2 separate regions of the Homo sapiens genome follow, and region 2 is linked to region 1. The links come from fine-mapping of genetic effects on gene expression. Tissue or cell type: sigmoid colon. Region 1 holds a variant in brackets; the other region holds the start of a gene. All regions are shown on one strand. Distances are from middle to middle.

Region 1 (2,758 bases):
AGAAAGCAGAGTCTGGAGGAAGTGTAATTCACACAGGGTCACACAAAGCTGGCTTGCCCATCTATTTCCACTACACCACACCCATGGAAGTGTAGCAGAAAGAGAAATGCCCGGGTCCCTACTCTTCTTTTGGTGTTTGTGACCTTCAAGAGGATCTGGCACCATCTCTTAAGGATCTCCAATTGTTTTTAATGTTAGAATTTTGTGGGCCCATCCAGACTTGACCCTGGAACATGGAAGGAAGCTCAAAAGAGTCAAGAAGCAGGCAGCAGCTGTGCGTGGTGGCTCACTCCTGTAATCCCAGCACTTTGGGAGTCTGAGGTGGGTGGATCACCTGAGGTCAGGAGTTTGAGACCAGCCTGGCCAACATGGTGAAACCCCGTCTCTACTAATAAAACAAAAATTAGACGGGCGTAGTGGTGCATGCCTGTAATTCCAGCTACTTGGGAGGGTGAGGCAGGAGAATTGCTTAACCCGGGAGGTAGAGGTTGCAGTGAGTTGAGATAGCGCCACTGCACTCCAGCCTGGACAACAGGAATGAAATTCTGTCTCAAAAAAGAAAAGAAGGTGGCAGCAGCTCAACCCTGGGCACCCTGCTCTGCTTGAAAGAATGAGTGTGTTTCTGGAGTCCATCTTGTTCACTTGTCTCTTCCTAGCGCCCAACACAGTACCTGTCCCAAGCAGGCCCTAAGGACAGGTTTAATGAATCCATCAATCAGGGTCTATGGGAACAGTGGGGTGACAGCACTCAGGATTTCGAGTAAGCAGGTGAAACTCTACCTGTCCATAGCAAAAAGTGGGAGAAGAGCCTCAGCTCTCATCTGGAAAATGGGGATAATCCCCAAAGGAAAAAATTGACAAGATGGTGTTGAGGCCCATTCAAACTCTAGGACCCAAGACTTTGGTTTTCTGTTTTTTTGTTTGTTTGTTTTTTGAGATGGAGTCTTGCTCTGTTGCCACACACCTGGCTGCCACCACACCTGGCTAATTTTTGTATTTTTAGTAGAGACAGGATTTCACCATATTGGCCAGGCTGGTCTCGAATTCCTGACCTCAAGTGATCCTCCTGCCTCAGCCTCCCAAAGTGCTGGGATTAGAGGTATGAGCCACTGCGTGTGGCCTAGGACCCAAGACTTTGTATGGGAGAAAATAAGAATCCATTCATGGATTCCCTAAATAGAGAGATAATGTGCTTTCAGAAAAAAAGACCCAAGAGACATGGAGTCTTTCTCTCTGGCTCCCTTAGCCCAGGAACAGGTGCGACACCTTGCGCAAGTCAGTAACCCCGAGTATCAATTGCCTCCTCTGTAAAATGGGGCCTGCCTTAGAGCACCTTGATGACTCCCTATCACCTCTATGATATCCCAGCATATAGGGAGAATGAAATGAATATGGGTCAAGCCACTAACACCCTCTAATGCAAAAGCTTGTGGCTACTTTACCTCCATCTCATAGATTCGTTGTGTGATGCGGTTATCATGAATAATCACC[C/T]GAGATAAATGGCTCTTGGGTAAAGTTTTTTTCATCGCTGCTTCACTGGAATTCATTAAGCTGGAGCAGGGAGGGAAAGGTGGCACAGGTTACAGACGGTTGGGGCCTGGGCCAGAGCACATTTGATGGGGTCCTGAGGGAGTGGCTGAGGCTTCCCCGGGTTTCTTGGGACAAGTGCAGCTCTGTCATAATTTTCAAAAGAACAGGGGAGTAACCACAGTTTCTTGTTGTGGAAAAGGTATGCTAAAGGGGTATTTCATGGTTACCCAGAAGAAAAGCCATTCTGAGGATGTAAAATGGCCTAGTGCAGTCCTTAAGAGAAGGGTTATCAGGAACTCAGAACCATCCTCAGAAGCAGTCACCCTTTTTGTGTTTTTTGTTTTTTTGAGGCGGAGTTTCACTCTGTCTCCCAGGCTGGAGTGTGGTGGTGCAATCTTGGCTTACTGCAAACTCCACCTCCAGTTCAAGCAATTCTCCTGCCTCGGCCTCCTGAGTAGCTGGCACTACAGGCACTCGCCACCATGCCTGGCTAATTTTTGTACTTTTAGTAGAGACGGGGTTTCACCATGTTGGACAGGCTGGGTTCAAACTCCTGACCTCAAGAGATACACCCACCTCAGCCTCCCAAAGTGCTGGGATTACAGGCAAGTGCCACCACGCCCACCCAGCCAAAAGCAGTCATCTTGATGATCCTTCTTAAGGATGAAATGGTGAGAGGAGTCTTAGAGGAGAGGAGTAAAGTTGTAGGGTAGGATTCAGAAGGATGAATCTGGGAGGTGTTTAGCTTGGGGGGCACTTGCTCTAGAGCATATGCTTCAAGGGGATCTGGGAGGTGGGGGGTTGGGGGAGTATAAATCAGAGCAGGGAGAAATGCAAATGAAAAGCTTGGACAGGTGTTAGGCTGGTTAACAGGGAAATTCTGGAAGAAAGTTTGGGGAGTTTAGAAAAGTGAAGGAGGTATGGGGTGGCTAGGGGTTTTAGGAGACTCTGAAAGGTGAGAGGTGAAAGATGGGGTGGGGTGGGGTAGAATGGAGCCAAGTACTCCAGGTGAAAATACAACAATTTGGTCAAAATGAGAAAATGGTGAAAAGTGGATACACTTACAGGCACTGAGTTTTCACTTTTTGATAATTTGGTTACACCACGAAGTAGTCTTATGAACATATATCTTTAAATGGTTTTGTCCATTTAAAAATAATTGTTCAGGACCGGGCAAGTTGGCTCACGCCTGTAGTCCCAGCACTTTGGGAGGCTGAAGCAGGCGAAT
Region 2 (2,758 bases), 23 kb after region 1:
GTTTTTGGCCAGAATGTCATTTAGAAATGCAGCAAATGTTAATACAGGATTTCTTTTTGTTTTTCTTGGTGATGTTTAATGGAAATAAACACAATCCTACTAAAAGGAGAAACATAAACATGGAAAGGATTTGGAACAGTGTCTAGCATAAGAGTAAGCCCTTAACACAGGTAGTGATTATTACTATTTTATTATTACCCTATCACAGTCGCTATTCATTTATTTATTCAACAAGTATTTATTGAGTACTATATGCCAGGCTCAATGGTCTGCATTGTGGATTCAGTGATGGGCAAAACACAAACTGTTCTGCCTTCAAGGACTTTATAGTCTAAAGTGGGAGAGGCAGTGGAATCATCACATGAAAATTCTAATTACAAATTGTGGTAAGCAAACCAAGTGATAGAGGTATAAGTAGACCAAGATTTTATCTGATTTTCAGAGTCAGTAAAAGCTTCTCTGAAGAAGTCCCAGTTGAGCTGCAATATGAAAAATGTGCAGGAGGAATTAAGGAGACACAAAGGAAAGAGTAGCATGCTGAGCATGTTTAAACACCCTGCAGTAGAAAGAGAATGATGATGGGGCCAATGTGGCTGAAACCCAAAGACTCAATAACTATTTAATGGCAAAAACCACAATTACTTTTGCACCAATCTAATAGTAGCAGTAGTAGGAGGTTAGATCCCAAGCCACTGGGGGATTTTTAAGGCTTTGCTAAGAATTTTAGACTTTCATTACATTATCAGTGGGGAGCCATGGAAAGTTTAGGAAAAGTGTGACAACCTTAGATTTGCGTTTTCGAAAGATCACTGGCAGCTGGAGTGTAGTGGGGCAAGGGTGACAAGCAGGGAGACTATTTACAGGGTTACGGCAGTATCCCAGTGAAAGATGCTGGGAGCCTGGAACAGGATAATGGCAGGTAGAGACACAAAACAGTGGATGAATTTGGGATGTATAGTATTTTGGAAGTAGGGCCACAGGGCCTGGTGATTAATTGAAACTTTAGCACAATAATCACACAAAGTCGAAGATCCTCCCCAGCAACATTAGCTAATAGGTTATTGATAAGTTGCAAAATCTTCCCCATTCTCCCTTGGCAAAGATTCAAAAGCCCTGGTGGTACTCAGGGCCGACAGATTACTCAGGCCGCACAGAGCGCGTGCACAAGGCCGTCGCTCCCCTTGTGACGCAAGACTTCATTCCCTGGATGTCAGCGGCCTGGAAGCGCAACGTTTCCTGGGCAACGCCATTGTCGCAGCTCCGGGTGGGGGAGGGATGACTAAAGACAACGGCTGTAAGAGAACTCCACAAGAGAGTCAGAACGAAAATGTGCAACAAGTGCGGCGGCTCCTACCATGGCAGGTGATTCGAGGACTCAGCACGAGGCGAGAGTAGGGACCAGGAAGAGCCGGAAAACCCGCCTGTGATTGGCCGTCCACGGGTATCGGTCGTTGTGATTGGGTGAGGCCCAGACAGACAGCTGCGTTTTGAACCGCGTAGGGTTCTGGGTAGCAAAGGCCTTGCAAGGCTCTTAACCGAAAGGGGGAGGGGGAAGGTCGCCAACAAACGGCTGAGCTCACAATCCTGGCCGGGGCGTCCCCCTCCCCCATGGAGAGAGCCAGACCCGAGCCGCCGCCTCAGCCGCGCCCGTTGCGTCCCGCTCCGCCCCCGCTGCCGGTCGAGGGCACCTCCTTTTGGGCAGCAGCCATGGAGCCCCCTCCGTCGTCTCCCACACTGAGCGCGGCAGCCAGTGCGACCTTGGCCTCGTCGTGCGGGGAGGCAGTGGCGTCCGGCTTACAGCCCGCGGTGCGGCGGCTGCTGCAGGTGAAGCCAGAGCAGGTGTTGCTGCTACCACAGCCTCAGGCCCAGAACGAGGAAGCCGCTGCCTCGTCCGCGCAGGCGCGGCTGTTGCAGTTCAGGCCCGACCTGCGGCTCCTGCAGCCGCCGACAGCGTCAGACGGCGCCACCTCCAGGCCCGAGTTGCACCCGGTGCAGCCCCTGGCGCTGCATGTCAAGGCCAAGAAGCAGAAGCTGGGGCCCAGCCTGGATCAGTCAGTGGGGCCTCGAGGGGCCGTCGAAACCGGTCCTAGAGCCTCCAGGGTGGTCAAGTTGGAAGGCCCCGGGCCGGCCCTCGGCTACTTCCGAGGGGACGAGAAGGGCAAGCTGGAGGCGGAGGAGGTCATGAGAGACTCGATGCAAGGCGGGGCAGGCAAAAGCCCGGCAGCCATCCGAGAAGGTGTGATCAAAACGGAGGAACCCGAGAGACTCCTCGAGGACTGCAGGCTCGGCGCGGAGCCCGCGTCCAATGGCCTGGTTCATGGCAGCGCGGAGGTCATCTTGGCCCCAACGTCCGGTGCCTTTGGGCCGCACCAGCAAGACCTTAGGATCCCTTTGACGCTCCACACGGTCCCCCCTGGGGCCCGGATCCAGTTTCAGGGAGCTCCGCCTTCAGAGCTGATAAGATTGACCAAGGTCCCCCTGACACCAGTGCCTACTAAAATGCAGTCCCTACTGGAGCCTTCTGTAAAAATTGAAACCAAAGATGTCCCGCTCACCGTGTTGCCCTCAGATGCAGGTATTAGACAGCAGGGGAGTCGGGTTTTCAAAACTGCGTCTGTGTTGCCCATAGCTGTTTTGTCAGCAGTTCCCAAGTCTAAACTACAAAAGTAAAGTAATGGAACTGATTGTTTTCAGGGCAGAGTCTGCACAGGTATCACTTCTGATCGACTTGTACATATAGCAGTAAAATACACGAATG

Which allele goes with the higher level. Alleles are on the strand shown, and positions count from the first base shown. SD is a standard deviation of normalised expression in the study named.
For the expression in sigmoid colon of the gene that starts at base 1,249 in region 2, C is the low allele of the variant in region 1 and T is the other (small effect, 0.35 SD a copy in GTEx).

The links. PIP is the estimated chance that this variant, and not a neighbour inherited with it, causes the effect.
Region 2: it holds the start of SOX30, and the variant in region 1 is fine-mapped to the expression of SOX30 in sigmoid colon (GTEx, PIP above 0.99). The same link has a PIP of 0.9 or more in monocytes.

Annotation. Positions count from the first base shown.
Region 1 is chr5:157,673,885-157,676,642 of GRCh38, reverse strand. C5orf52 (chromosome 5 open reading frame 52) reads right to left here. Exons shown (of 3, transcript NM_001145132.2): 2 at 1,443-1,551. Among named protein-coding and RNA genes, the nearest start is that of C5orf52, 3.7 kb to the right of the region's middle. The variant C/T (reference allele first, on the strand shown) is at 1,492.
Region 2 is chr5:157,650,929-157,653,686 of GRCh38, reverse strand. SOX30 (SRY-box transcription factor 30) reads left to right here and starts at 1,249. Exons shown (of 5, transcript NM_178424.2): 1 at 1,249-2,575. The coding sequence starts at 1,609. It overlaps LOC105377675 (a long non-coding RNA gene), which reads right to left and starts at 1,881. Exons shown (of 3, transcript XR_941127.3): 1 at 1,355-1,881. RefSeq lists an enhancer at 1,312-1,606.